Linked DNA regions of Homo sapiens. The protein of the gene in region 6 purifies or fractionates together with the protein of the main gene of each other region. This does not show direct contact. Each region holds a gene or a part of one and is shown on either strand. Other genes may lie near its edges. The genes, in order: UPF2, NDUFA10, ARL1, TRAPPC8, TPD52L2, ACTR2 and CEP85L.

Region 1 (3,500 bases), on a different chromosome or scaffold from region 6:
GCTGACACCTATAATCCCAGCACTTTGGGAGGTCCAGGCAGGCAGATCACCTGAGGTCAGGAGTTCAAGACCAGCCTGGCCAACATGGCGAAACCATGTCTCTATTAAAAATACAAAAATTAGTCAAGAGTGGTGGACTGCATACCTGTAATCCCAGCCACTCGGGAGGCTAACAGAAGAATCACTTGAACCCAGGAGGTGGAGGGTGCACTGAACTGAGATTGTGTCACTGCACTCCAGCCTGGGTAACAGAGCAACATGTCGTCTCAAAAAAAAAAATCTTTTTTTTAAACTACTTTTTTTTTTGAGACAGGGTCTGGCTCTGTCGCCCAACCTGGAGTGCAGTGGTGTGATCTGGCAGTCTCTGCCTCCTGGGCTCAAGCGATCCTTCCACCTCGACCTCCCAAAGTGCTGAGATTACAGGCGTGAGCCACTGCTCCTAGACCTAAACTACTTTATAATCAGTTTCCAAATAAATTTCCCTTTATCTGCTGTATAACATTACTAATATTAATAACTGATTTTTTTTAATAGAGTTTCGCTCTTGTTGCCCAGGCTGGAGTGCAATGGCGCAATCTTGGCTCACTGCAACCTCACCTCCCAGGTTCGAGTGATTCTCCTGCCTCAGACTCCCGAGTAGCTGGGATTATAGGTGCCCGCCACCATGACCGGCTAATTTTTCTAATTTTAGTAGAGACGGGGTTTCACCATGTTGGTCAGGCTGGTCTCGAACTCCTGACCTCAGGTGATCTGCCTTCCTCGGCCCCCCAAAGTGCTGGGATACAGGTATGAGCCATCACAACCAGCCTTAAAATGTAAATTTTAAAAAAGGCAAAGAACATCTGGTCCTCTAAAGGGTAAAATCTCATGTTTCCATGTTTGTTCATCTACCATGTTTATCGCACCTATACTTTAGGAGCATTGACTATAAAAATTCCATTCGTGATACTTTACAGAGTGCTATTCTTAAGACTGATGGACAAGTTAGGTTTTCTTTTTTTAAGGTGCTATTTTAAGAAAAGATCTTAAAACAGGTTGAGTGGCTAGCTCAAAAGCTAGGACTCTTACAAAAAAGAAAAACAGAGGGAAGAGCTAGGGAGCAGAACTGGAATGAGAACGTTTATTCAGTGACTGAACACAGACTGTGAAAAGTTCTTTTGTCCATTCACCAAATATTTACTGAGCACCTACTAGGTGCCAGGCACCAAGAGCTGTGAAGGAGACAGAATGGAAACAACATGAGACTTGGTCCCAGCCCTCATCGCCTGTAATCTCATGGGGAATAGAGACAAGCTAAGCGGCACTTAAGGAGGACAAGGTCTGCAGAAATACCATAAGTCATGGCAGCAGATCCGCACTGACCTATGTCAGACTCAGGAACACCAAGGCAGGACCCGAAGGAGCAGGAGTTCTCCAGGGGAACAGCTGGAGACTGTTCCACACAGAGGAGGCAAAAAGAACACAGAACTAAAGGTCAGCTAGGCTGCAGCAGGAGAAAGAACAGCAGGAGATGAAGCCAGTAATGTATGTCCACCTGCACCACAGGGCCTTGGGAACCAAGTTGAGGAGTTTAGACTTTTTATCCTACAAGCCACGAGGAGCCATTGGATGATTTTAAGCAGAAGGGCACACACAGATATCAAATTTGTGTTTTAGAAAGAACACTGGGTCTATAGCGGGAGAATGAATTGGAAAGGGTTGAAGGTTGAGACGGAGAGGCTGATGAGGAGGCTGAGGCAGCAACAGCAATCCAGGCAAGAGGTGATGGTGGCTTGACCCATGGTCTTGGCTATGGGCAGAGAATAGAAAAGGCAAGAGTGAGGGCCATTTGGGAGCAGAATGCAGAGGATTTGCTAATGAACTACATTTAGGGATTGAGGGAGGAGGAGCTGTCAATAACACAACTTCCTTTTCTTTTGTGGACAAGAGGGCAGACAACGCTTCCTCTCCCTGCACTGGAGACCCTGGGGAAGAGGAGTCTGGGGCAGGGGCACGAGTCTTCCATCTCTGAGTCACAGTGGGGTGGAAAGTCAGAAATGAAAATGTGAGATCTGGGCTGGAGACCTGGATGGAAGTCAGGCCACTGGGAGGGATGACACCTCCTTTGAGAGTGCAGAAGGAGAAGAGGGCCCAGGCTGAGCCCAAGGAACACAGACATCCCTAGGCAGGGAAGCGCAGAAAGGAGGCAGTGTCAGCAGCAGGAGCCACAGTGATCGCGGGAAGGGAAAACCCAGAAGCCAGCAGAATCACAGATGCCAAGGAAGGGTCTGTTGGGAGAACAAGGAGGGCCTACAATGCAAAGTGCTGCTGAGATGAGGCCAAGAGATGGCAGGTGGGGATGCCAGTGATGGCAGAAGCTGCCTAGACCTAGGGACTGAGAAGGTGACAGGAGTCAATAATGAACCTCTTTTCTAGCATAGCCACTGGGGTGGGCAATGCCTCCCACTGCCAGCTGTGACTTGGCAGGGGTAAGCCACCCAAGTGGGAGCAAGGAAGAAGGGGCAAGTGTAGCCGATTCTTCCAAGGAGGAATTGGAGGGAGGAAGGGAAAATAGAAAGTGAAGGAACTCTGCAAAGTGACTAACACCGGTAACCAGGTTAAGAAAGGCTTACCTCTGTTCACACGCACGTCGATGACAGCACACACATGCTCACGTCGATGACAGCACACACATGCTTACATATCTCCTGCCTGGTCCTTAACAGACTCTCACCCAAGGTTTTTGAAACAGACAAATGAAGAGGGTGGAATTATCTTTCAAGTACCCATACTCGGCTTCCCTACTGGACCACAACCGTGCAGGTAAAGACCCTGTCTTGTACTCCATCTTCCACAGTGCAGTCCTGGATGAGTGTACACGGAGGGAGGCAAATCCTACTGGATGCCCCTTATGTCATCCAACTCCATAGTGAGTCTACACAAATTACTAAGACACTATACTTGCGATACATGAATTGTGAGGGGGTTAGGGATTAATAAAAACGTGCTATTCAGAGACGTTAGGCTGCAATATGAACAGGTGAAGATGATGGAAAACATCAAGATATTATGCTGGTGCAAAAGTAATTGCAGTTTTTCCCATTACTTTTATTGGCAAAAACCGCATTACTTTTTACCAACCGAAATACAAATATTCTAACAGTTTTGGTCTCTGATGATGAGACAGGAGGGAATAGATGTTATCAAGAACACTGTGGCATATATTTAAAGCTACTCTAAGAAAATGCAAAAGCAGGAAATGAACATTTTTCATTGCCTGTTAACCTAGCTAGTGTCCACATTTTAGCAGCAATAAAACAGGCTTAATTAAAGGACTTTAATAAAGTTTGGATAATTAAAAATAACCTAATATCTTATTGTGCCTAATTAGATGGGTTTACAGGTCATTTCCAACTTGGATTTTTTTTTTAAATTATACTCAACAGATGCTAAAGAACAGATCTCTAAACTGTCTTGACAAGCCAGTTTTCTACATTACAATTTGATTAGAGTTATCTGAG
Region 2 (4,531 bases), about 170 Mb from region 6:
AAGGGTCCCAACATCAGCTAGAGTCATTCTCCTTCTACTACAGTGAACACCTGAGCCTGCCCAAGTGCTCCCATAGCGTGACTTTCTCCACACATTCTAAGATGTATACTTAGGGCAAGAAAGATGCCTGTTACGAAGCAGCACTGCCTGTCTTTCCTGTCTGCCTCGTGCCTGAGTGCAGGAATGAAAGAGCACCAAAAATTGGGGGCAGCGGCCTGTCTGTCCGCCATCTGTCCTCAGCACACTCTCTTCTTGTCACCTGACTCTCCCTGCATCTCTCCAACTTGCTCGCCACCTCCATCGCTCACCCATCTCCCCGCAACCACTTCTCCCACTTTCTACGGCTGTCACCTCTCTCATCATCTGAAATGCACTATGCGAATTTCAGAAACTTGAATATCTAATTATGAGTAGCAAGTTTTAAAATTTAAAACTCCTTACAGTCTCACACTATCTTCTCAGCCCGTTTTGTTTTCTTCACATCATTTACCTCTATTTGATGTATTTATTTATCTCCTTGCTTGCTGTAGGTCTCCCCCATCAGCATATGAGCTCACGGGTGAGGACCTCATCCACCCTGCTCACTGGTATGTCCCTAGCACCAAGCAGGGTCTAGGACAGGGTGGATGCTCAATCAACACTTACAGGAGAGAGAGGAAGGAAGAAAGAAATGAATAGGCCTGCGGTTTCAACCTACAAAATGATGAAAACATTCTAAAACTGGATTATGGCAAGAGTGGCAACAACTTGGTAAATTTACCCAAAATCATTCAGTCGTACCCTTAAAATGGGTGAATTTTATGGAGCATAAATTATACCTCATTAAAGCTGTTCAAAATAAGAAAAACCCTATCATTCAAAGAATATTTACTGAACATGTATTAATTCCAGTAATGCGACGGGGCACAGGGAAAGGATGATACAGGCAATGCTGCACTTCATTGCTCTGTCAAAAGGGGGAAAGGCAGTAATTGGGAGTTCTATTTTCCAATAAGGACTTGGTGTCTGGGCAGAGACCATCTTTGTTCATCTTTGCAGCCTCCTAGGTGCCTGGCACAGGCGCCTTGCATATAGGAGGTGCTCTGTATTAGAGGAGTGAGTGAAATCAACAAAAGTATAAAAGAGGTGATATGATTCTAAATCTCTATCATTAGCTATGTGCCAAGTAGAATAAGATTAAATGTTAACTGATTATAAAAGAAACTCTAGTGTAATATAAGCCCATAACATGCAACATAACACAACCATCTCAGAAATCTGACCTGAAGTTACTTGATAAAATATGTAGTTATTGATCACTTTGACTGTTTTCTTAGAATCTAGAAATGGTTTTCGGATATTCCTATCAGTTATTCCCAAAAGGTGCAATACTGAGACACAGACTGCATTGAAATAAAAATCAAAATAAGAACACAGACTTACTGATAATGTGATGTCTTTTATAAAATGGGGTAATTTTACCTGATGACAGTATTGAAGACTTTACTTGGAAAAATTAAGAAGTTGACAGCTCTACTTTAGACCTCAGAATTATTTTTGAAATACTGTTTTCCCAGATAACAAAAGAATTATCTAGAGAATGTTAAATGTATGACTTTGTTTTTCTCAATAAATGTCAGCATAATAAGCAAAGGTGTCCAGTTAGTCCACTGAGAAACAAACATTTTGAACTTGCAGTTCCCTCCTTTTGCCACTTGATGGAAGGTTCTTAGAAGTCTAGCTATACAACATACTTACAAGCATATGCTTAAACAATAAAAGTTCCAGAGTGGCAATAGAAAGGCATACATAGACATCTCGCTGTTTCTACTATTGCAACAGAGAAGGAAAGTTAGTCCCATGGATCTTTCAGGAGCAGCAAAAAATAACCAGAGCTTTACTGTTGCCCTGACAAGAACCCACCATCCAGAGAGGTATTTCCTGAGCACCTACAAGAATTCCGGCACTGAGGATGGGCATCAGAGTGAGGAACAGGCAGGTAGCCCTGCATTTTCATCACAGTATCAAAAAGGAGACCATATTCTCCTCCAGGAAAAAATAACATAGTATTAAACAAGCAGTGAAACCCCGTCTCTACTAAAAATACAAAAAAATTAGCCGGGCATGGTGGCGTGCGCCTGTAGTCCCAGCTACTTGGGAGGCTGAGGCAGGAGAATGGCGTGAACCCGGGAGGCGGAGCTTGCAGTGAGCCGAGATCGTGCCACTGCACTCCAGCCTGGGTGACAGAGCGAGACTCTGTCTCAAAAAAAAAAAACAAAGAACTCGCCACAGGGCAAAGACGGTCTTTGTTTCATCTCAGGATCCTCCATCAAGCCGCCAACAGAGCTACCAACGGCCACAGGGTCACTTCAAAAGGCGTTGCTTCGAGGCCACCTAATTAAGATCCAATGAAAACTACAAAGAGTAAATGGATGTGTGTGGATATCACTGCTCTACTGTTCTAGAATTGGTAAGTAAGAAAAAGGGGGAGAGGCACGATTTGCGTTAAATAGATTGAAGTGATGAGGGATATTAGAAATTGCTTCCAATGTGGAAGAAAACGATAGGACACAAAAACCTCATCAGAGAACAGAAAGGTACGTGACAGAGGGATGGAGGACGCTCTGCCAGGAGGCCCTCACCAGCCTCCCAAGTTTAAACAGCTGAGGGGACTCGGGGACCACAGTGGGACCGCAGAGCACTGGTGGGCGGCAGGCCCGCAGGCTGTGGCACCAGGCCGAGCCATGGGGTCTCCCCTCCACCCCTGCAGATGCCCTCTCTCAAGTGGGAACAGGGTGTGTGTCACCCTCCTCGTGAGGACTGGTAGGAATTAGTATAAATGCTATTAAAACAGGGCTTTTAGTGCTGATCTACATTCAAAATAGAGATGCTTGGCCTTTGATTGAAAACTGCATTACATCTCCTTTCTTCTGAATCCGCCTCTGGACCTCTGGAACGGGCACATCGATGTAAATCACCAGGTGGGGGGGCAGGTAATCGCAGATGGTGACGCTCTTCACCTCGTTGTAGTGGTCCACACCTGGCACATAGGAGAAAGGGGCGCTGTCACCTACCAGTCCCCACACGGGTTTCCAAAACACACTCCTCCTTGAATAAAAGGGCAAACATACACGCAATTCTCAAAGCCACGTACCAATCTACAAACCCTATCTCGGTCACAGTTCTAAGCACTGACCACACACATGGCATGTGACTGTGCTCCAGGTGCCACGGGGCATGTGCAGACAGCAGCTGTGGTGCCCACAACCCTGAAAACAGGGCTTGTCGCCTCCACTGTATTTACAAACCAAAGGTCTGAGGCCCAGAGAAATTAAGCTACTTACACAGAGTAAAACAGCAGCATTTAAACTGTGACCTTAATCATCCTAAAAGACAGATCTTTAGCACATCTTAGCCACATTTAAGGGTTCACTTTTGCTCCTGAGGCAAGACGTAGGTCACGCAAGATGGAGGTCACAGTTCAGTGATCTTTGAACTGAAATATATTCCATATACTTGCAGTATATATGTTGCAGGTATATAGTATACATGCTACTATATTTCTTCACAGTAATAATAGATACAAGAGTCTGGTCTTCTCTGAAGAATAAAGAACAGCTTTAAATACTTTATTTTTCAAATAACTCAGCTGAAAATCATCAAGCTGCATTTATCCCGTTTCAGTAGTATAATCAGCTGCACAGAAGTATCTACTGAGTCAGATTTAGTGACAACATGAAATTGAAAGCAGCTAAGGCTGAGGAATAATTCTCCTAAAGTGATCACTACACAGAATGCATAATCCAGGGGGCACCCGCAGGGCCCGTGCCACCCAAGGGAACCCTGCCGCTCTTCAGAGCACTCTGCACCTGCACATGCTCATGCACACCCGACCTCCCAGAAGCCAACAGAGAGTGCACGCCAGTGCATGTGGAGAGGCCATGCTGAGAAGCCATCCCCTCTGCAGCTTTTCACGTGTGGAACCTTCCAGAAGTGACAGATGGCCATGCTAGGGTCCACAGAAAGACAACTATTTTGCTTTAAAGGAAATGGGCTGGGCACAGTGGCTCACGCCTGTCATCCTGGCACTTTGGGAGGCCGAGGTGGGCGCAGATCACTGGAGCCCAGGAGTTCAGGACCAGCCTGAGCAGCATGGTGAAATCCCATGTCTACCAAAAATACAAACATTAGCCAGTCTCCTAACCTAGTCTCAAAATAAATAAATAAAAATTTTAAAAATTAAATTAAAAAAAAAAGTTCCAGTGAGCATTCCTAGTAACCTCACTCTAGAGGCAACTGTGGGATGAGCCTTTGGCTCAGGGTCAGGAACGGCACGAGCTAAAGAACAAGGAAGACCACCCAGGAGGAGGTGTGACAAAGCAAAGGACGGAGGCTGCCAGTGGAGTACCGTTCACCTGAGCATACAAACACAAACCCGCAGCCAGGCAGAGCACACGGGACCTCGGGTCTGCTTCCTGACTGCTGGACCGGTAGCAGGCCGGTCTCTCCTGCTGCTGAGGTGAAACCTCCCTTCACCGAGTCTGCTCTCACC
Region 3 (4,531 bases), on a different chromosome or scaffold from region 6:
TACCAACAGTGTATAAAAGTCTCCATCTTCAATGCAGCCTTTGTAGAGTTGGGAATTATTTACTTTTCCAAACATAGCATCTCATTATATATTACTAGGGTATTCGAAATGCACATGGGCTGAGGCAGGAGGATCGCTTAAGTCCAGGAGTTGGAGACCAGCCTGAGCAACACAGGGGTCTCTACAAAAATTTTTTTAAAAAACAAACAAAAAAGGAAGCAGAGAGAGGAGCTCAAGGTTATAACAAGCTTTGGTTGTGCCACTGCACTCCAGCCTAGGGGACAGAGGGAGACCCTGTCTCTTTTTTTTTTTTCTTTTTTTAAGACAGTGTCTCGCTCTGTTGCTCAGGCTGAAGTTGCAGTCGTGCAATCTTGGCTCACTGCAGCCTCTGCATCCTGGGTTCAAGTGATTCTCCTGCCTCAGCCTCCTGAGTAGCTGGGACTACAGGTGCCCGCTGCCACGCCCAGCTAATTTTTGTATTTTTAGTAGAGATGAGGTTTCACCATGTTGGTCACTCAGACTGGTCTCGAACTCCTGACCTCATGATCCACCCGCCTCGGCCTCCCAAAGTGCTGGGATTACAGGCATAAGCCACCGCGCCCTGCTGACCCTGTCTCTTTAAAAACAAATGCAAATGTTATTAGCAATGTTTTTCCCCTACGAATTGCCTTTTGCTCATTTTGCAAAAGATCTTGCTATGATTCAGATCACTAATCCTTAGTCATTGGCTTCTGGTTAGGCCTGGTTTCTTATCTTAATCTTGTTTATATTTGCCATATCTGAGCTTTGGGGGAGTTTTGTTTACATTAATATAATTAAATCTCATCTTTTGAATTCCTTATATGTTCTTATAATTTTCATTTTTTACATTTAATTATTTACCCATTTAGAATTCATTTTTGTGTATAGGAAAGTTGAAAGGCCAGGCACGGTGGCTCACATCTGTAATCCCAGCACTTTGGGAGGCTGAGGTGGGTGGATCACCAGGTCAGGAGTTCAAGACCAGCCTGACCAACATGGTGAAACCCCGTCTCTACTAAAATTACAAAAATTAGCCGGGTGTGGTGGTGTGCGCTTGCAATCCCAGCTACTCAGGAGGCTGAGGCAGGAGAATTGCTTGAACCTGGCAGGTGGAGGCTGCAGTGAGCCGAGATTGCACCACTGCACTCCAGCCTGGGCAACAATAGTGAAACTCCGTCTCAAAAAAAAAAAAAAAGTTGAAACCTAAACTGCTTTTGTGTCTATACTATATATTTTTTGTTTGTTTGTTTTGAGATGGAGTCTCACTCCATCACTCAGGTTGGAGTGCAGTGGCACTATCTCAGCTCACTGCAACCTCCGCCTCCTGGGTTCAAGTGACTCTCCTGCCTCAGCCTCCCGTGTAGCTGGGATTACAGGCGTGCGCTACTACACCCGGCTCATTTTTGTATTTTTAGTAGATATGGGTGGCCAGGCTGGTCTCAAACTCCTGACCTGAAGTGATCCACCTGCCTCGGCCTCCCAAAGTGCTGGGATTACAGGCGTGAGCCACCACACCTGGCCTGTGTCTATATGTTTTAACATTAACAGTCCTGACTCGTACTTGGCCCATACTTAACATAACATGATATTTATTGATGAATTAAAAGTGACTTCCTAAAGAAAGAATCCAACTTTTACTTCTTTCTCTGTAAGACTTTATAAGTCAAATCCTAACACTGCAAGTAACAACAATCCTGCACAACTCAAAAATTGTAAACTGAAGTCAATAATCCATTCCTTTTAAGCAATACTTTATATGATAAAAATACACTATATCATGTGAATTATACCTAAATAAAACTGTTCTTTAAAAAACCTATTATACCCAAGGCAATTAAACCTTATCCTTACATTTAAATTTGGTCTAAGAAGCTCTTATAATAAATATAATGCTATGATGTAAAAAAAAAAAAATTAACCAAATGTTTAAAACTATTAAGTCTGCAATTTATAACTTGGAAGCCATTAAGTCAGTAGTTCAAGAAATCAAAAGTCCTGGGCTGAGCGCGGTGGCTCATGCCTGTAATCCCAGTACTTTGGGAGGCCAAGGCTGGCAGATCAGGAGGCGGGCAAACTGCTGAGGTCAGGAGTTCGAGACCAGCCTGGCCAACATGGTGAAACCCCATCTCTGCTACAAATACAAAAATAAGCCGGGTGTGGTGGCAGAAGCCTATAGTCCCAGCTACTCAGAAGGCTGAAACAGAAGAATCGCTTGAACCCAGGAGGCGAAAATTGTAGTGAGTGGAGATCACGCCACTCACTCCAGCCTGGGCGACAGAGCAAGACTCTGTCTAAAAAAAAAAAAAAAAAAAAAAAAAAAAAAGAATTCAAAAGTACATAGTCCCCTCGTCTGAGGATGCTTTTACCTAGGTATCAACTGGCCTAGAACTTATATTTAAACATCCCTTGATTAAACAATTCAGAATCCAGTTTTTGACAAGAGAAAGAAACTTATCCATCTAATTTTCCAGAGCAAGGGCAATTTTATTATTATCATAGTACATTTGATTATTTTTTCATTTTTTAAAAATGGATTATTTAATGCATCCTCTGAATTTGATCAGTTAGCCAATATATGATCTTATTAACTTCAGTGAATAAGATGTATTGAATTCTTAATTAAGTACTATACATTGTTCCTCCTATCAGGGTAAACTCAAAGAACTTACATTTTAGAGGGAGAGATACATAAGTAAACAAATATATTTTTTTTTAATTTTTATTTTTTGAGACAGAGTCTCACTCTTGTCACCCAGGCTGTAGTGCAGGGGCACGATCTCGGCTCACTGCAACCTCTGCCTCCTGGGTTCAAGTGACTCTCCTGCCTTAGCCTCCCAAGTAGCTGGGACTACAGGCACACACCACCATGCCCGGTTAATTTTCTTGTATTTTCAGTAGAGATGAGGTTTCACCATGTTGGACAGGCTGGTCTCAAACTCCTGATGATCTCTGGTGACCTGCCCGCCTCGGCCTCCCAAAGTGCTGGGATTACAGGCGTGAGCCACCACGCCCAGCCAACAAATACATTTAAAAATAATGTAAAAAAACAGTAAGTGGGGTGCAATGGCTCACACCTGTAATCCCAACACTAGGAGGCCGAGGCAGGAGGATCACTTGAGGACAGGAGTTTGGGACCAGCCTGGGCACCATAGGTAGACCCCGTCTCTACAAAAAAAAAGAAAAAAAAAAGAAAAAGAAAAAGAAAAAAAAGAAACAATATCGGTATAAAGAATAAAGAAGGGTAAAGGATTAGAGAATAAATAAGACTTCTTTCTGGGGAAGAGATGTGGGAAGAAACACGTCAGGAAGGCAGCCATGCAAAGATGCTGGAGAATAGTATTCCAAGCAGACGGATCAGCAAGTGCAAAAGGCCCTGAGCCAGGTGTGCAAGCTCGTGTCCAAAGAACAGAAAGAAGGTCAAAAGCACTGTAAACACTGGGAAGGATAAAAAACGATAAACGTGAGGCCAGCATTGTGCCAGTAACCCAGAAATACATATTTCTCTGAACTTGAATCCTTCTAAAACAGCTAAAAATAAAAAGACATATTTTAAAAGTCACATCAAAGAAGTGACTTAGAATAGATGCTTTTGTTTAAGTGAGCTCTTCTGAACCTCCTGGAAAATCAAGCAATCTGGCTTGAAGAGGAAGTTACGAGGTTAATTTTTGTTGTTGTTTTGTCTCCAACCCTCCTCAACTGTATTTTTGGAATAGAAAATCATTTCCATAAAAGAAAATAATTTTAAAAGGATGGAGGGAACAACCCCTGCATTCTTTTTAATTATTCTTCAATGTAATAATATGTAAATGACTGCCCCACATTTTAAAGTGGTTACGTTTTCTTACCTCCAACATGGCAACTAACTCTGATTTGGAAATGCCAATTCGGTCTCGGTCACAACTGTCTACTACATAAATGACTGCATCTGTGTTTGAATAGTAACATCTCCAGTATGGCCTAGAGAAAATTTAAAAGGGGAGAACATATTGTTATTGTTTTAAGGAAGAAACTGACATATCAATTGCCAATTCTGTCCCACACATGTTAGAATCAATGCCTTAATGATTCACTGTTTCTGGTGGATATATGTACCATATCCCTCAGATGTGATGGAGTCAAAAGAATGTTGATAAACATTGGCTGGGCACGGTGGCTCACATCTGTAATCCCAGCATTTTAGGAGGCTGAGGAGGGCAGATCAACTGAGGTCGGGAGTTCGAGACCAGCCTGACCAACATGGAGAAACCCCATCTCTACTAAAAATACAAAATTAGCTGGACATGGTGGCAGGTGCCTGTAATCCCAGCTACTCGGGAGGCTGAGGCAGGAAAATCACTTCAACCAGGAAGGCAGAGGTTCCAGTGAGCTGAGATGGTGCCATTGCACTCCAGCCTGGGCAACAAGAGTGAAACTCTGTCTCAAAAAAAAAAAAAAAAAAAAAAAAAAGAATGTTGATAAACATTGACTCACAGGACCAGGGAGTTTCCAAATGAATTCATTCAGACTTCAG
Region 4 (4,531 bases), on a different chromosome or scaffold from region 6:
GAAACTAAGAAATTAAAGAGATAGTTATCTTCTGCAGGATATACAATCAAACACTAGTCAGAGAGTTAAACAGAGGAAAAACAAAAATGATAACACTTTACTCACAGCAAGCCAGATGTATTTTTCAGGTCATTAATGCTCTTTTCTGGAACTTTACTGCCACTAAACCATTTTTTAGTTGCAGAAAATAGAGATCGACTCAAACCTTTTCTTGATATTAGCTTTAAAAAAGAGATTAAATATGTTGACAAACAAAGAATTTAGTATTTTTCCTTTACATAAAAAAATTTTAACTAAAAAGCTTTAATAGCAAATGTTCATTTTAATAAAACTGATTTAAAGAAAACTGTCCAATATGCTGGCAAAATCCTATTGAAAATGAATAAGCCTCTTCTAGAGTTGAACAGAATTTCATCATTGATAGTAATTTTGGGAAGTCTTAATATTGGCCTATCTTAAAACGAAAATAAAACAAAACTTCAAATACGTTTAATAATTCTTAAATTTACTATTTACTTAAATTTTTAAAATACTAATCCAAAAAATCAAACCTTACCTGATCGTTTAATTGCCTAATTGTTTTCTCTATATGTGGCAAAAGGCCCCGAAATGTGAACTCTTGTATAAACTGTCGAATTCTATCATGATCAGTAAGTGTTAAACATGCACCATGAATTATTCCAGTATTTCCTTTCTTTGTTTCATGTAACGATGAAGCAGATCTTAGATGATCTGGGCCATCAATACTGTTAGAAGGGTCACTGGATTGCTCCAACTGAAGTGGGTGAGCTCTAAAGTTATTTGGTAAGCCATCTACTGAAAAAGAGATTATTTCTTTTACTCTCAGAATGCAACAGAAAACAGTGCTAATACTACCATACTGCTAAAGAAAAAAAAAAAGCAGAATGTTAAAATCCTTTATCTTTCAGTATAGGTAAATGTCTAAGATAAAACAGCAGTAACATCCCCCAGCCCCAAAATTAATGAGCTTGAGTTAATATTTGTTTTGGTACCTGTATTAGTAATTTGAAAATCGGTATAAACCAGGAAATGGAGAAAAATACTTTATTTTAAATAATATAAAGAATGACTTTTAAATAGTACAACTAAGCCGTAAGAAAAAATATAACAAAAAAAATTTGTTATCATTACAAAAATCATAAAGTCAGAAATAAAGCTCTCAAAATCATGTAAATTTTTAAATAATTAATGCTGTGCATCACATCTTCCCTTGCTTTCTACAAAATATTTTAAAAGAAATCTATACACTACTCATATAAAACAAATTTTTAAGTGTCAAAAACAAACTCAAGTAGCTCAGTAAAATCTTCAGAAGAAAAACTAACCTGCCCAATATCTTTCTGTATTATGAAAAATTTCCCCCATCTTTTATCTATAAAGGTTAGCATGATCTGACAACAGTGCATATTTTCAATCAAAAGAGAAACTTAGAGAAAATATATCAAGACCTTTGACTTCGTTATCTAATCCATCCAATGAAAGCAAGTTATTATCAGAATTCTTATTTGAAGTTATAGTACAAGGGCCATCTTCATATGATTCCTATCAAAATAAAATTTAAAAAGCATTAGCAGTTATACTTAATCATACTTAATATACTATCAAATCCATCAACAACTATGGTTACTCTGCTAACTGTTGGCCTCATTTATTTGCTACAGTGAGCATTTTCTCGTCCTCCAAATTCATAACTTCTTCCATGGATCTTATTCTATCACTCCAACTCACACCTACTATATTCTTAAATCCCCTTTCACACTCAAGCTACTATCCTAATTCTTCTTAATTCAAATTATCTCTCAGGATATCTACTTATATATGATATGTATATACACGAGTGTTCATATAAGCACATACATATGCTTATGCCTCTTAAGTAAGGAATAATGGCAAGAGAGATGGACTACTAGAGTCAGACGGGGAAAGAAGAGAGGCACAGATATGAAATTCTTTGGGTCACAGTGTAAGCAGGTTGGAGTGAATTCTGAATATACTGAAGTGTTTTAGAAAAATATCTAACGCAACGTTTATTTGTGCAAAGGAACTGGTTTCTCAGTTAACAAAAAAACACTTAAACTAAAAATACCCAGACTACTCTACAAGACCAGTAAATATGATGTATTATTCTGAGTGTCACACTTTGAGGGAATTTACATAAACTAGAACTCAAGAAGAAAGTGACCAGGACAAGAAAGTCTGAAGCCACTCCTTGAGAAAGAGTTGCAGAAACTAGGCATATTTAGACTGGAAAAATATAAAAGAGGACATGAGAATTATCCTTCTATATTTTGAAAGTTGTCTTAATGGAAAACTAACATAGTCACTCCCAAAGGATCAAGCGTACAAGCAAAGGTCAAGAATTTTTTATTGATCCTTAAGCAAAATGAGAGAATTTTTGGGTGATCAGACATGCAATAGGTCACTTAATAAGAATACAGTGAGTACTGTCAACAGACGCAGTCATTCGTAAGTTTAAAGAAATTAAAGCATTAGATCAAGCATTGGATGTAAAACCTCTAAACTATTCTCCAACTTTGAGCTTCTAGGATGCTAAGGCATAGATTTCTGATATTTCTGCTTTCTGCTAAAAGTTCTCATACTGCACAATCTTCTTCATGTTCCCCTTCACAACCTTAGGTGACTGAACTCTAAAGTGTATTTTTTTCAGTACTGTTCTTATTCTTAGAATGGCCCCTAAAAGACCATTTTTAAAAATAAAGTTCCTTCACATCCAACTGGTACTTCTTTGCTTTTCCCCAGCATTATCTTAAAGAACGTCAGTAATCACCTCAATACTAAAGTCAGTAAAATACCATGATAGCACTACATTTAGATTTAAAGATTCCATTTATGAGACAGAAAAATAAAGCAAATAAACAGATTAAACAATACTTATATCAGAAGATCAAAAATTACATAAGCTTTGTAATTGATTTTTTAAATGTCACACACAGAGTGCATAATATAGTTTAATTGAACAATATAAATATATTTTCCATTTACTTAAGAATTTCTAGGCCAGGCGCTGTGGCTTACGCCTGTAATATCAACACTCTGGGAGGCTGAGGCGTGTGGATCACTTGAGGTCAGGAGTTCAAGACCAGCCTAGCCAACAGGGTGAAACCCTGTCTCGACTAAAAATGAATCGCTTGAACCCAGGAGGTGGAGGTTGCAGTGAGCCGAGATCTCGCCACTTCACTCCAGCCTGGGCAACAGAGTGAGACTCCGTCTCAAAAAAAAAAAAAAATTTCTGGCCGGGTGTGGTGGCTCAGCACTTTGGGAGGCTGAGGCAGGGGGATAACTTGAGGTCAGGAGTTCGAGACCAGTCTGGACAACATGGTGAAACCCCATCTCTACTAAAAATACAAAAATTAGCCAGGCGTGGTGGCGGGCGCCTGTAATCCCAGCTACTCGGGAAGCTGAGGCATGAGAATAATTTGAATCCAGGAGGCAGCTGTTGCAGTGAGCCGAGATCATGCAGTGAGCCGAGATCATGCCACTGCACTCCGGCCTGGGCGATAGAGTAAGACTCCGTCTCAAAAAAAAAAAAAAAAAAAAAAAAGAATTTCTTCTAGGCCGGCATGATGGCTCACACCTGTAATCCCAGCACTTTGGGAGACCAAGGCCTGGGCGACAGAGCGAGATCCTGTCTCAAAAAAAAAAAAAAAAAAAATTTTCTTCTAAACAAAAAACAGTGACTCTCGATTATCTGAACTAAGCATAGGAACTTGGCATTTGACTACTACCAAGCGGCATACTATTGTACCTTAGAAGTCTGACAAAACATCAAACGCCCATCAACTTAAGCCAATAGGACAATCAATCTTATTCTAGAACTCGAGGTTAAGAAAGGAGTAATTAAAAAACAGTAACTCCTGAGAGTACATAAAGAAGGGAAATCAACGGAAAGTTGGAGGGAAATGCCCACCCACCTAAAAAGTATGAGTTCCTGAAGGTGGCTATAAAAGCATGTTAAAAAGGTACGAAAGAGGCTGGGCATGATGGCTCATGCCTATAATCCTAGCACTTTTGGAGTCTGAGGCGGACAGATCACCTGAGGTCAAGAGTTCGAGACCAGCCTGACCAATATGGTGAAACCCTCTCTCTGCTAAAAATACAAAAATTAGCTGGGCGTGGTGGTGTGCGCCTGTAGTCCCACCTACTTGGGAGGCTGAGAGAGGAGAACTGCTTGAACATGGGAAGTGGAGGGTTGCAGTGAGCCAAGATCGCGCCATTGCACCCCAGCCTGGGCAACAGAGCGAGACTCTTTGTCTCCAAAAAAAAAATTAGCCGGGCATGGTGGTAGGTGGTGGACGCCTGTAATCCCAGTTACTCAGGAGGCTGAGACAGGAGAATTGCTTGAACCCAGGAGGTGGAGGCTGCAGTGAGCTGAGATTGTGCCACTGCACTCCAGCCTTGGCGACAGAGCAACACTCTGTTTCAAAAAAAAAGAAAAGAAAAAGAAAAATGTAGGGAGCAACCCCAGAGCATGTAGATAATAAAGAATTGA
Region 5 (4,531 bases), on a different chromosome or scaffold from region 6:
CGCTGCCACTCAGTGAAGCTTCAAGGTGCAGACTCCTCCCTCACCAACCCCGAGCACCACAAGTTACCCAACAGCACTGGCAGCCAACCCTCCCTGAAGAACACAGCAACGGCAGAAAAGCAGCCAACGGGGATGGACGAACCTCCCAGGCAAGGGTCTGCACACAGACTGGTCGGGGCCATGATGGATGGCCACATCCCTGAGCCAGTGCATCTGAGCCCTGATCTCCAGGCAGGCTTCCTGTAGCACCTCCAACACCTCACCTCACTCCTGGCCAGGTCTCAGGGCAGCAGAGTCAGGGTTGCGTCTCACCTCATGTCTCCAAGCTTCCTGCTGATGGCAGAGCCCACTGTGGACAGGGCAGCTGAAGTCTTCTGTCCTGCCTGTGAAAGAGTTTCCTGAGTCTTCTTGTAGCTGGAAGACACACCAGTTAAATCAACCAGACAGCATGGGCGGGTCACCACCCACAGCCAAGCAAACAAAGCACTGGGAGCACGCCCGAGGAAAACTGAGGAAAGGAGCTGGGCCAAGGGGTGGACACTCGCCAGGTGTCTACAGAGGGGGTGCAGGCCCAGAGCCCCTCGGCCCCCAGAGGCCCCTGCGGCGAGGAGCCGCCTGTGCATTGCTCGCTCACTGAGCTCTCGGCGACCCTGCCGAGTCTCGGCCCCCCAGCCCTGCAATGACGCTGCTTTCTCATCTCACAACCCAATTTCACCCCCTTGCCTGATACCCACTAAGCTCGCTTTCCTGTCTTCTCACAGCCCCTCTGACTACAGAGAACACGCCCCATTTGCCTGCTAGAGCGGACGGGCCCCCTGAGGTGCACGCCTGGCAGGCAGTGCCAGAGCAGAAAGGCCTCTCAGTGCCCTGACCGGCCCATGCGTGCAAGTTTCCCTTTCCTCTTCCCAAATGAGACTGTGCTGAGGGGAGAAAATGCAAGCTCAACCACGTCTGTGGGGAACGAGCGTCACAGAGTGGCCATGCAGCCCGCAAGGTGCCCCTGCTCCAGACGGCGGGGCCCCGTGTGCCTTCAGAACATCGGACAGTTCCATTCCCAGGCCTCTTTTCACAGTGCAAGGGTCTGTCCTGGCCCCTAGTGAAGGCCCCGCTTCTATCCCCTCCAGCTCCCTCCAGTGTCCACCCACATGGGTACATCCCATCAAAGCAAAGCTCTAGGGCCTTGGCGTCTGCAGGACAGGCAAAGGGCAGCAGGCAGGATGCTGTGGCTGCAGGGATACTGTTGGGCCCACCATGACAGTCAACACCTGAAGTCGCTGGCCCTCATCCAGCTGCCACCATAAACACAAAACACAGCAGACTCTGACATAACAAAGTCCAAAATGCGAACCCACAGCCACCTTATCACGGCTCCTCCCTCAGTGAAGCCAGGGAACTCGAGGCTGAATGGAGATGGGCTCCCAGGACCATCTTGGCGTTACCAGTGCCAACCTGGAGAGCTGGCAAACCCAGCCAAGCCCTGAGTGGCATCTGGGATGACTGGCGCCAGAGAAGGCACAGGCTCCTCCTGCTCCCACTGGCGGCACCAGGTCCCAATGATGGGCCTTCCGGAGCCCTTACTCACAGGCCCTCCCACCACTCCCTGCAGAAGGCCCGTGTGAGCTGAGTGCTACTACTCTCCAGCCCCCAAACAGTTGACAAGAGTGTGTGACCCACCAAGTGTGCCCTGGCAGCGCATCCCAGCGCAGCTCTCTCATGCCCGCCCCCGGCCCAAGGCCTACCAGAGGATGCACTTTCTTTCTTTTTTTTTTTTTTGAGACAAAGTCTCGCTCTGTCACTCAGGCTGGGGGGCAGTGGTGCAATTTCAGCTCACTACAACCTCCGCCTCCGGGTTCAAGAGATTCTCCTGCCTCAGCGTCCCAAGTAGCTGGGATTACAGGCACCCACCACCACGCCCTGCTAAATTTGTCTTTTTAGTACAGATAGCGTTTCACCATGTTGGCCAGGCTGGTCTTGAACTCCTGACCTCAGGTGATCCACCCGCCTCGGCCTCCCGCAGTGCTGGGATGACAGGTGTGAGCCACTGCGCCCAGCCCGCTCGGATGACAGGTGTGAGCCACCGTGCTCAGCCCAGAGGATGCACTTTCCCATCCAGGCTCCGTGCAGCTGGAATCATGGCTGTTTTTAAATTTTTTCTTCTTTTATTAATAAAACACCAGTTATAAGTAACTAATGACCTGCTATATTTAGTTTCAAAAACACAAATTCTTTTTTTTTTTTTTTTGAGACAGAGTCTTGCTCTGTAGCCCAGGCTGGAGTGCAGCAGCACCATCTCGGCTCACTGCAAGCTCTGCCTCACGGGTGCACGCCATTCTCCTGCCTCAGCCTCCCGAGTAGCTGGGACTACAGGCGCCCGCCACCACATCCGGCTAATTTTTTTGTATTTTTGGTACAGACGGAGTTTCACCGTGTTAGCCAGGATGGTCTCGATCTCCTGACCTCGTGATCCGCCTGCCTCAGCCTCCAAAAGTGTTGGGATTACAGGTGTGAGCCACCGTGCCCAGCCCAAAAATACAAATTCTGAAGACATCTTTAACCTTGATTTTCCCTGAAATAACAAATGCATAAAACCATGTGAACATTCTGTGGTTCGCTGAAGCAAAGTCACCTGCAGCAGAGGATTCTAAAGCGCTCACAGCACCTGCATTTGTGCCTAAAGAGTGGGGATGGGGAAGCTGCACCTGCATTTGTGCCCTAAGAGTGGGGATGGGGAAGCTGCACCTGCATTTGTGCCTAAAGAGTGGGGATGGGGAAGCTGCACCTGCATTTGTGCCCTAAGAGTGGGGATGGGGAAGCTGCACCTGCATTTGTGCCTAAAGAGTGGGGATGGGGAAGCTGCACCTGCATTTGTGCCCTAAGAGTGGGGATGGGGAAGCTGCACCTGCATTTGTGCCCTAAGAGTGGGGATGGGGAAGCTGCACCTGCATTTGTGCCTAAAGAGTGGGGATGGGGAAGCTGCACCTGCATTTGTGCCCTAAGAGTGGGGATGGGAAAGCTGCACCTGCATTTGTGCCTAAAGAGTGGGGATGGGGAAGCTGCACCTGCATTTGTGCCTAAAGAGTGGGGATGGGGAAGCTGCACCTGCATTTGTGCCCTAAGAGTGGGGATGGGGAAGCTGCACCTGCATTTGTGCCTAAAGAGTGGGGATGGGGAAGCTGCACCTGCATTTGTGCCTAAAGAGTGGGGATGGGGAAGCTGCACCTGCATTTGTGCCCTAAGAGTGGGGATGGGGAAGCTGCACCTGCATTTGTGCCCTAAGAGTGGGGATGGGGAAGCTGCACCTGCATTTGTGCCCTAAGAGTGGGGATGGGAAAGCTGCACCTGCATTTGTGCCCTAAGAGTGGGGATGGGAAAGCTGCACCTGCATTTGTGCCTAAAGAGTGGGGATGGGGAAGCTGCACCTGCATTTGTGCCCTAAGAGTGGGGATGGGGAAGCTGCACCTGCATTTGTGCCCTAAGAGTGGGGATGGGGAAGCTACACCTGCATTTGTGCCTAAAGAGTGGGCATGGGGAAGCTACACCTGCATTTGTGCCCTAAGAGTGGGGATGGGGAAACCGAAGTTGGAGAGAAAACAACCGCCTGTGCCCGGCCTTCAGAATGAGATGTGGGGTCCTGAGCGTGACCTGTGGGTGGGTAAGTACCACCCACACAAGGAGGATCGGAATGAGATGCGGGTCCTGAGCGTGACCTGTGGGTGGGTAAATGCCACCCACACAAGGAGGAGGGTCCTGAGGGTTCCTGGCCACTGACCACTGGCCACTGACACCCGGTGCCACTGTGATCAGTCCCTGCTGTGCCATAAACCACACTCAAGCCCCTGGGGGCCCCACAGCCCTCAGCATTGCTCGGGTGTGGAAATGAGGGGGTCACAAGGGAACCTCCTCTAGAAACAGGAACCTCCAAACTGGGATGGCCCTGGAAACAATGGGCATCACCTGCATAGCCTGAGGCCACCACCAGCGCCTCCCTGGCCTTCTCTTCCTACAGCAGGTCCCTGCCCAACAGCTGTGGCTCTGACCTCTCCCTTCCCCTTCTCAGTCCCATCCTGGGCCTCCAAGGTGGCGGCAGCAGCTGTGAGGCCCCCTTCCAAGGCTCACAGCGCTGCAGGCCTGTTCTGAGAGCGTCAAACACACAGGCACACACATTCCTCAGTGGACCAGAAGGCTGGGTTGTTATTACTCCATGACAGATGGGGAAGCTGAGCCCGGGAGGAAGGGGCAGGGGTCAGAGCCAGCATCTGCACCCAATAACTAGCTTCAGCTCTCCTTGAGAGCACCGGGCCGGGCAACCCCAGCCAGCACCCATTTGGGAGTTCCTAAGACCTTCTAGGAAGAGAGCCCTGGACAGACAGCGGTTTCGTCCCACTGCCAGTGAGCTGTCCCCTGGGCAGCACAGGGCATCTGGGGGACATCCTTGCACTCCCCCTCTCCTGAGTCTGTCTCTGGGGGCTGCCCCCACTCCCACTCAGGATGGACAAGTGATCCAGGCCTGGCCAGAGCACACCACCTCCAA
Region 6 (4,531 bases):
AGGCCAAAATTCAAAGCGTAACTAACAGAATTTCTGGGGTTGTCTTTAGAACACAGACTCAAATATTAGAGGATTTTTTTTTTATTTGTAAAGTCTAGTAATTTTTTTTCTCTCAGTGGGTTTTTAAAAAAATAGTAGTATTTTCTAGCATTTAAGAAATGTAACAATGGAGATTATACCTTTGAGTATCCCAATAATTCCCTTATCATTCGTTAAACAAATGCTATTGTCCTTCTAATATGTGCCAGACACAGTACTAGAAGCTAAAGATAAAACTTTTAAAGACTTGGGGGCATTTCATAAATATGGCATTAATTGTGTGAGCAAACTGCAGGCTACAGGAGTCCAGTACTAAAATAATATTTATTCATTAATATACTTTTGATTGTTTATCAAAACTATCAAAACATTAGTACTCATGCAGTGCTTTTCAAAAACTGACTTTTCTAGTCATTTTACTGACTTACTTATGAATTGTTAATTCTTTTACCCTCTCTGAAACTGAAATATAAATCCTTTTATGGCGGATAAAATCCTGCTTCTGAAATAGTAGGAGCTGAGGATCCACTGCCCATTCTGTTTGTTATTGATGTGACATATTTAATGAGCATTACTAGCTTTTGCAGAGTAGAACTCATTCAGATGTATTATGAACTTATTGCTATTGTTTTGTACCAGCTACTTCTGTTGCGAGGATACGCCTTCAACCACTCTGCTGATTTTGAAACGGTTCGCATGATTAAAGAAAAACTGTGTTACGTGGGATATAATATTGAGCAAGAGCAGAAACTGGCCTTAGAAACCACAGTATTAGTTGAATCTTATACAGTAAGTGTTTCCAGTGTATAATATATATGTGTTTTAAAGTGGACAGCCATGATTATTGGTGTCAGCTTAAGGAGGTTTTCTTAGAATCAGTATTTTTGTCTTGGGTTGTTGTAATATGTATATGTGTGACTTTTAATGTCTCTTTCTACATTAAGTTTCTATTTAATTATTTTAGGGCACCATATAATGCAAATTAAGGCAAGAATCATAAATTACTCTCTATACTAGGATATAATTAGATGCGAGATGTTATTTTGAGATTCTAGTATTTGGCATAGCATTTCTCAATGTATGTTTTACAGAACTTTATTTCCCTGAGATGCTAATAAGCATTTCACAAAAATTAAAAAGGATTACATTGTCAGATGAGTTTGAGAAAGAGTTGATTTCACTTCACTGTAGAACTCAGAGCCTTTGGTATGCTAATATGGGCACAATTAATATAGTATGCGTGTTTTTCAGACTTATGCTCTAGGACTTTTCAGAATTTCATGGGATTAGTGATCTAAGAAACATACTTTGGAAATGGTCATTCTAGAGCATTGCTTTACTAATTCAGTAGGTGGCAGCCTTTCCTGACTTAATATTCTTTAATGAGGTGTTAAATGTTAACTTGAAATTGTAACTAATGAGATTTAGTACCTGGTTATAGTTTATAACACCAGAGGAGTTGATCCTACTTGAATTTTTAATGAATTACCATCTTAAGCCTATTAAATTTGTCTGAGTATAAAGTACTTCCAGGTCTCATCTTTGATCTAGTTATTACTAAAATGAAACAGTAATAGGCAATGAAGGCAAGTATTTTAAAACCATATGATGCATACTAGCTCTACATATTCACAAATATATGCAAAATAGTCATTTTTAAAGTAATTATAAAAAATTTGTTGTTGGCCGGGCGCGGTGGCTCACGCCTGTAATCCCAGCACTTTGGGAGGCCGAGGCAGGCGGATCACCTGAAGTCAGGAGTTGGAGAACAGCCTGGCCAACATGGTGAAACCCGTCTTTACTGAAAATACAAAAAATTAGCTGGGCAAGGTGGTGGGCACCTGTAGTCCCAGCTATTCAGGAGGCTGAGGCAGGAGAATTGCTTCAACCCAGGAGGCAGAGGTTGCAGTGAGCTGAGATCGTGCCACTGCACTCCAGCCTGGGTGACAGAGCAAGACTCCATGTCGGTAAAAAAAAAAAAAAAAAAAAAGTTAAGATAGTGATCCAAATATTCAGTAAACCCCCATTTAAAATTTTTTTAAATTTATTTTTTATTATACTTTAAGTTCTGGGATACATGTGCAGAAAATGCAGGTTTGTTACATAGGTACACATGTGCCATGGTGGTTTGCTGCACCCATCAACCTGTCATCTGCATTAGATATTTCTCCTAATGCTATACCTCCCTCCCCTTGCCGCCCCCCACCCAACAGGCCCCATGTGTGTTGTTCCCCTCCCTGTGCCCATATGTTCTCATTGTCAGCTCCCACTTATGAATGAGAACATTTGGTGTTTGGTTTTCTGTTCCTGTGTTAATTTGCTGAGAATGATGGTTTCCAGCTTCACCCATGCCCCTGTAAAGGACATGAACTCATTCATTTTTTTATGGCTGCATAGTATTCCATGGTGTATATGTGCCACATTTTCTTTATCCAGTCTAACGTTGATGGGCATTTGGGTTGGTTCCAAGTCTTTGCTATTGTGAATAGTGCTGCAGTAAACATATGTGTGCATGTGTCTTTATAGTAGCATGATTTATAATCCTTTGGGTATATACCCAGTAATGGGATCGCTGGGTCAAATGGTATTTCTAGTTCTAGATCCTTGAGGAATCACCACATTGTCTTCCACAATGGTTGAACTAATTTACACTCCCACCAACAGTGTAAAAGCGTTCCTATTTCTCCATATCCTCTCCAGCATCTGTTGTTTCCTGACTTTTTAAGGATCGCCATTCTAACTGGCATGAGATTTTGTGGTTTTGATTTGTATTTCTCTAATGACCAGCGATGATGAGCTTTTTTTCTTATGTTTATTGGCCACATAAATGTCTTCTTTTGAAAAGTGTCTGTTCGTATCCTTTGCCCACTTTTTCATGGGGTTATTTGTCTTTTTCTGGTAAATTTGTTTAAGTTCCTTGTAGATTCTGGTTATTAAGGCTTTGTCAGATGGATAGATTGCAAAAATTTTTTCCCATTCTGTAGGTTGCCTGTTCACTCTGATGATAGTTTCTTTTGCTATGCAAGAAGCTCTTTAGTTTAATTAGAACCCATTTGTCAATTTTGGCTTTTGTTGCAATTGCTTTTGGTGTTTTAGTCATGAAGTCTTTGCCCATGCCTATGTCCTGAATGGTATTGGCTAGGTTTTCTTCTAGGAGTAAACCCATTTTGTAACTTAATCATCTCCAGATTTGCTCTGGAGATTCCTTCCTGAAGTCTTCTTGACAGTTTCTCTAGTTGTCTGATTTTCCATCTACCTGACTATTTTGGAAGAAAGTGGCTGGCACAGGGCAAAAGATAAGCAAACTAGGAATGTAAAACATGTTTTATTTCTTCCTTCTCTCTTTTCTCAAAGAATTTGAGGTAGGCTACAAAAATATATACAAATAGGCTGGGTGTAGTGGCTCACACCGGTAATCCCAGCACTTTGGGAGGCTGAGATACGAGGATCACTTGAGGCCAGGAGTTCATGGCCAGCCTGGGCAATATAATGAGACCCTGTCTCTACAAAAAAAATACAAAAATTTGCCAGGCGTAGTGGCACGTGCCTGTAGTCCTAGCTAGTTGAGAGGTTGAGGTGGGAAGATTGCTTGAGCCCAGGAGTTCAAGGCTCAAGTTTTGAGGCAGAGAGCTAGGATTGCACCACTGCACTCCAGCCTGGGTGAAGGAGCGAGACCCTGTCTCAAAAACAAAACAAAATCCATATATATATTTGATATATATATGCACACACACACATATACACAAGTATAAAGTAATAAGCTGATGAATAAGTGAGGAGGGACATGGGTGGACAAATACAGAACAGGATAAGATTTGGTGCAAAGAAATGGGATGCCTGCAGTTTTAACAGTTCATTAAGGTGATTAGAAAACTTGACCCCATGCTGGCCAGCAGCCAGAGAATGGAGAGAAGCCACACTATCAGGCTTCAAGTGCTTAAGGCAGGAGGTTTTGCTAATAAGATCTGCTGTGTGAAGTTTTTCCAGATATTTTGGGTGATTTCATGTGAACCCACCTGAAGGTGGAGGTGGTTTTTTTAAGGGTATAAGTTTTGGTAACCTTTTTTTTTTCTTTCTGTTTTGAGACAGGGTTTCCTCACTCTGTTGCTCAGGCTGCAGTGCAGTGGCATGATCTCGGCTCACTTCAGTCTCAATCTCCCAGGGTTAGGTGATCCTCCCACCTCAGCCTCCTAGGTAGCTGGGACCAAAGCTGGAATCTAAACAATCATTGTAATTGGCCAGGCGCGGTGGCTCTTCCCCATAATCCCAGCAATTTGGGAGGCCAAGATGGGAGGATCATTTGAGCCCAGGAGTTCAAGACCAGTCTGAGTAACAAAGCAAGACCCCCGTCTCTACAAAAAATAAAATTAGCCAGCCATAGTAGTGTGCATCTGTAGTGCCAGCTACTTGGGAGGCTGAGGTGGGAGAATCCCTTGAATCTGGGAGATTGAGGCTGCAGTGAGCCATGATCACACCACTGCCCTCTAGCCTG
Region 7 (3,935 bases), on a different chromosome or scaffold from region 6:
TTTAGTCTAGTTATATATTTGTATAAACAAATAAACCAGTTTCAGGACAGCTTGAATTAATCCACATATTAAGATAAACTCATTTTAATACCAGAAATTATTTACTTATCCCTGCCTTCACACTTTGTTTTCAGACAAGTCCAATTTTAGGGCTGGAATAATTGCTCAAATTATTCAAAAGATATACTGAACAATATTTCAAAAATAAAAATTTCCTTCCAATTATCAGGAAAAAAGGTCCCTACATGAATCAACTCAGAGGTCATTATCTTGACCTTCACCATCTGCTCACTTGCACAAGAAGCAACACAAGTTTTTCATCTAAGGTAGAACTTTTTAAAACTTAAAATTATCTAAGATAATTTTAAATATTTATATTTGCTCAAAAAGGGAAGAAACACAATAAATAATTACATTACTATTTCAGCATGTAACTGAAAAAAAACTTTACAAAGGCATGTCCTGACTTGTCAATAGTTTATTACTGACAAATTGAGATAAAATACATACTTTGGTACAGCTATACTGTCCAAATTTCTTCAATTAGGGTAGTAATTACAAAGTATCCTCTTCCACTATTATTCTATGCCATAGCAAATGTCTCTCTAGAGGCTGCAACATAACAAAGTCCTTCGTTACCTAACTTTAAATACTAAAATGTTCTCTTCTTCCTAGAAAACAATGAAAAATAGACACCATGCCTCAGTGATATACCTCCAAACAAGCTGCTATTATCACGAATAAATTTTAATAGGTTAGATTGCAAAGACATTACAGATGGCTTTTGACATTTTCAGATAAACTGAAACCACTCCCTCCAGCCCCTAGGGATAATGAAGTAGCTTCTCAATCACTGAAGTTACTTAGATGACAGGATTTGTGAATAATCTGTAAACTCGGGAAACCTCTGAACTGTCTCCTTAGGACAAATAACATACAATTTAGAAAAAAAAAATCCCTACTTAATACTGCTTTTTACTAAATTCATGCCTACATTAAATTTCAGGATCAAACTTAAGTGAATGATTCAAATCATTCATTAACATACATTAAGTGTTTCAGGACCAAACTTAAGTGAATGATTCAAATCTAACTCTGGCTTTTTAAAATGTACATATGTCTTTTTAAAAACCACACATCACAAATATCTAAACTATCAAAGAATTGCATTATTCGAAATTTCAATAGCCTGATACTAGTGACTCGGTCAGTGCCTGATTTTTTTTAAATAGCAGAAAATATTACCATCAAAAGACCCCTTTCCAAATGCTGCTTCTGCTTTTTTGTTTTGTAAATAACAGCTTTGGAAATGTATGCAAAAATATCTCTAAGTTACACAAGTCGAGCTCAAACACTTTGTGGAGCAAGGTTACTTAACAGGAGTCCCAGAAACAGCTAAAATTGTAGGGAAAATTTTGCGTATGTATATATGGCATTGTTTTTTCTGCGCAGAATGTCCATATAACTCAGTTTCTCAAAAGGCCTCAAAACTCAAGATTAAAAGTGCCTGGAAAGACCATCATCTTTAGAGAACATATCACAGGCAACCCAAGACTTATTTTTTATCCCAAGTTAGGGGAGGATTTATCCTAATTTTGTGGCTCCTACACAACTTCTGAGCGACGCAAGCATGAAATGGCTGTCCGATACAAACAGACCCCTTCAGATACGGAATGCAGCAAACCCCTAATTTTCCTTGAAGGGGCCACGGAAAGCCAAACGGATTCGTAACCCGGTTGCTCAATGGTCCATTGGCTACTGCAGGACGCGCCCTCCTCTTACGCCGCAGGGGCTGCGGGGCGGCGACCAGGTTCCTCCGAGGGGCTGAAGTTCCCTTGGGGGTGGCTGAGAGCGGCCGCATCTCTGGCAGCATCCTCCCTCCCGAAAACGCGCCCTAAAAGTAGCGGCTGCGGGCGTGGGCACAGCCAACCCCAGCCTGCGCCTACCAGAAGTCGGGAGGGCGCGGAACTGCGGCCCCTCCGAGACGCGCCCGGGCCGCCGCCGCAGCACTGTCGCAGCGACCTTCCCGCCCGGGTCCCCGCGAGCAAACGGGCAAGCCCCGTTATCACGCAGGTCACACACCCCACGAGTAAAAGGAAAAAACCGGGCAGACAATAAAGCCCAACCCGCGGGGGCCCAAGCGAGCTGGAAGTTGGGGGCGCTGGGGCTGCAGCCCAAGGAGGAGCGGCGGGGACGACGGGATGCGGGGCTGATGCGCCTGGGACGCGGCAAGCCATATGTCAGCCCGGGTGCTGACAGCGGGGAGGACACTGGGCACGCGGCGGCGTCGGGGAGGCGGCCGGGGTAAGACAGGCCTGAGGCGGGAGGGGAGCGGCGGCGAGGTCCCGAGGCGCCGCGGTCGGCCGTGACCCCCACCCCAGCCGGGGCGCTGTCCCGTTCCTTACCGGCAGGGAAGCTGCGGGCTCCGCCGGGGCTATCCCGGCCGCTGGCCTCCGGAGCCAGGAAGCGCCCCCACATCGCGGGCGAGAGGGCCGGGTGGGCCAGGGACGCCCGACTCCTCACGTCCGTCCTCCTGCTTCTTCGGCGGCGGAAACTTGCGCGGAGCGTGGGCCTCGGCGACACGGGCAGGAGGAAAGGCGGGATGGCTGGTTAACGGCTGCTCAGCTACGGGCGGGGAGCGCAGGGGCCAGATTCGCCGCACTGCCGGCGCCTGCCATGGCCAAGCCGGCTGGGCTGAGGCCCGCGCCGGGGAAGCGGCGACTCGGCGGTGACGGCTGCTAGATCCCCGGCTGAGCCCAGGCTCAAAGGCTCCAGGCGAAGTTGCAGCTGCGGGTTCTCTCCGCCCCCTCCGCCGGCAGAGCCAGAGCCGGGGCTGGGGCCGCGAGGGGGCGGGGCCTCGGGCAATGACTTCAGGCGTGCGCGGCGCCGCGCGGGGCGGGGACTGCGGGGGGCGGGGACTGCGGGGGGCGGGTGAGCTACCCCGACCCCGCTTCGCCTCCTTGGCGGCGACTGGGCTGTCCCGCCCTCCCGCCGCATCCCTCTGTCTCCATCCTCCCGCCCTGCGAGTTGAGTAGAGGGCAGCGACTTGGCCTATTTTGCGATACTCGCCCCTCCCTTGGGTAATCCCTCACGCCCTCCCTCCGGGCACCTCTGTGAAGACACGTGGAAGACCTGCCCCTGGCGTCACAACCGCTCGAGATGAAAAAGCCAAGCCAGGGCGCGGCTGAGGGGGCTTCCAGCCTCCCTTGGAATTAGGATTGGGATTTAAATCCTCATCTGTATTCCTTCGTTTATAGATTACTTTAGGGGCAGAAAAGGGGTGGTTTTCCTTTACTAATTTAATGGGGGCGTGGGGGCAACACAGGCACCAGAATATAGCACCGGGATGTGCACCGGAAAAGGCCCGGGGGTAATTAGTACCCGAGGGGGAGAGGGGCCGTCATTGTAATCGCACAACGTTTCAGATTAGCAAGCAGAAAGTAAAAATGGCACCAAAGTCTGTAAAGGGAGCCCTTTCCTCCTTGCCCCCTACTCCTTCACGTTCTTCCTCTTCTTGGCCAGTTTCCACCCTTCACCTGAACCCTTAGTGCAGGAGGAGACGTCCTAAGGAAGGGCGAAAAGGGACAGCATCGTTTTATTTTTAAATCTTACTTCTCACTGGCAATATGGTGATGCTTCCAACGTTTAGTTACGAACTAGTTCGTATAAAAAATTCTGGGCCAGCACTGTGGTGGGAGGCGGGCTCTGCAGTAGGCCCATCACTCAGAGGTAAGTCGGAACGCAGGTCGCTTAACTAGAGAGGCTTTGAGTTCCGCTTTTCCTGTTCTGGAATCTTGCTAACAAAGGCCTCATATTTGCATTTTTCCCTTAAAGACATTTTAATTGGGAAATACTACTTAAAATTCTTGGAAGTTAAATTAGATTTAGGTGTGTGTTCTATCACTTACCACATCCGTGTTGTAATTTATCTGATT

The links.
Region 1: the proteins of ACTR2 (region 6) and UPF2 purify together in Homo sapiens (affinity purification with mass spectrometry; one large-scale study listed by BioGRID and IntAct). This does not show direct contact.
Region 2: the proteins of ACTR2 (region 6) and NDUFA10 purify together in Homo sapiens (affinity purification with mass spectrometry; one large-scale study listed by BioGRID and IntAct). This does not show direct contact.
Region 3: the proteins of ACTR2 (region 6) and ARL1 purify together in Homo sapiens (affinity purification with mass spectrometry; one large-scale study listed by BioGRID and IntAct). This does not show direct contact.
Region 4: the proteins of ACTR2 (region 6) and TRAPPC8 purify together in Homo sapiens (affinity purification with mass spectrometry; one large-scale study listed by BioGRID and IntAct). This does not show direct contact.
Region 5: the proteins of ACTR2 (region 6) and TPD52L2 fractionate together in Homo sapiens (co-fractionation; one large-scale study listed by BioGRID). This does not show direct contact.
Region 7: the proteins of ACTR2 (region 6) and CEP85L purify together in Homo sapiens (affinity purification with mass spectrometry; one large-scale study listed by BioGRID and IntAct). This does not show direct contact.

Annotation. Positions count from the first base shown.
Region 1 is NC_000010.11:11,924,310-11,927,809, forward strand, and holds part of UPF2 (regulator of nonsense transcripts 2), read right to left. Parts: intron 1-3,500. UniProt on the Homo sapiens protein: Involved in nonsense-mediated decay (NMD) of mRNAs containing premature stop codons by associating with the nuclear exon junction complex (EJC).
Region 2 is NC_000002.12:240,011,842-240,016,372, forward strand, and holds part of NDUFA10 (NADH dehydrogenase [ubiquinone] 1 alpha subcomplex subunit 10, mitochondrial isoform 1 precursor), read right to left. Parts: intron 3,020-4,531; coding exon 2,898-3,019; exon of another isoform or gene 1-2,897. UniProt on the Homo sapiens protein: Accessory subunit of the mitochondrial membrane respiratory chain NADH dehydrogenase (Complex I), that is believed not to be involved in catalysis. Complex I functions in the transfer of electrons from NADH to the respiratory chain.
Region 3 is NC_000012.12:101,397,196-101,401,726, forward strand, and holds part of ARL1 (ADP-ribosylation factor-like protein 1), read right to left. Parts: intron 3,979-4,531; coding exon 3,867-3,978; intron 1-3,866. UniProt on the Homo sapiens protein: GTP-binding protein that recruits several effectors, such as golgins, arfaptins and Arf-GEFs to the trans-Golgi network, and modulates their functions at the Golgi complex.
Region 4 is NC_000018.10:31,908,198-31,912,728, forward strand, and holds part of TRAPPC8 (trafficking protein particle complex subunit 8), read right to left. Parts: intron 1,564-4,531; coding exon 1,470-1,563; intron 1,448-1,469; exon of another isoform or gene 1,387-1,447; coding exon of another isoform or gene 1,347-1,386; intron 817-1,346; coding exon of another isoform or gene 814-816; coding exon 557-813; intron 222-556; coding exon 106-221; intron 1-105. UniProt on the Homo sapiens protein: Plays a role in endoplasmic reticulum to Golgi apparatus trafficking at a very early stage. Maintains together with TBC1D14 the cycling pool of ATG9 required for initiation of autophagy. Involved in collagen secretion.
Region 5 is NC_000020.11:63,878,602-63,883,132, reverse strand, and holds part of TPD52L2 (tumor protein D54), read right to left. Parts: intron 415-4,531; coding exon 313-414; intron 1-312.
Region 6 is NC_000002.12:65,254,867-65,259,397, forward strand, and holds part of ACTR2 (actin-related protein 2), read left to right. Parts: intron 1-678; coding exon 679-828; intron 829-4,531. UniProt on the Homo sapiens protein: ATP-binding component of the Arp2/3 complex, a multiprotein complex that mediates actin polymerization upon stimulation by nucleation-promoting factor (NPF).
Region 7 is NC_000006.12:118,648,792-118,652,726, forward strand, and holds the start of CEP85L (centrosomal protein of 85 kDa-like), read right to left. Parts: upstream 2,801-3,935; 5' UTR 2,479-2,800; coding exon 2,406-2,478; intron 1-2,405. UniProt on the Homo sapiens protein: Plays an essential role in neuronal cell migration.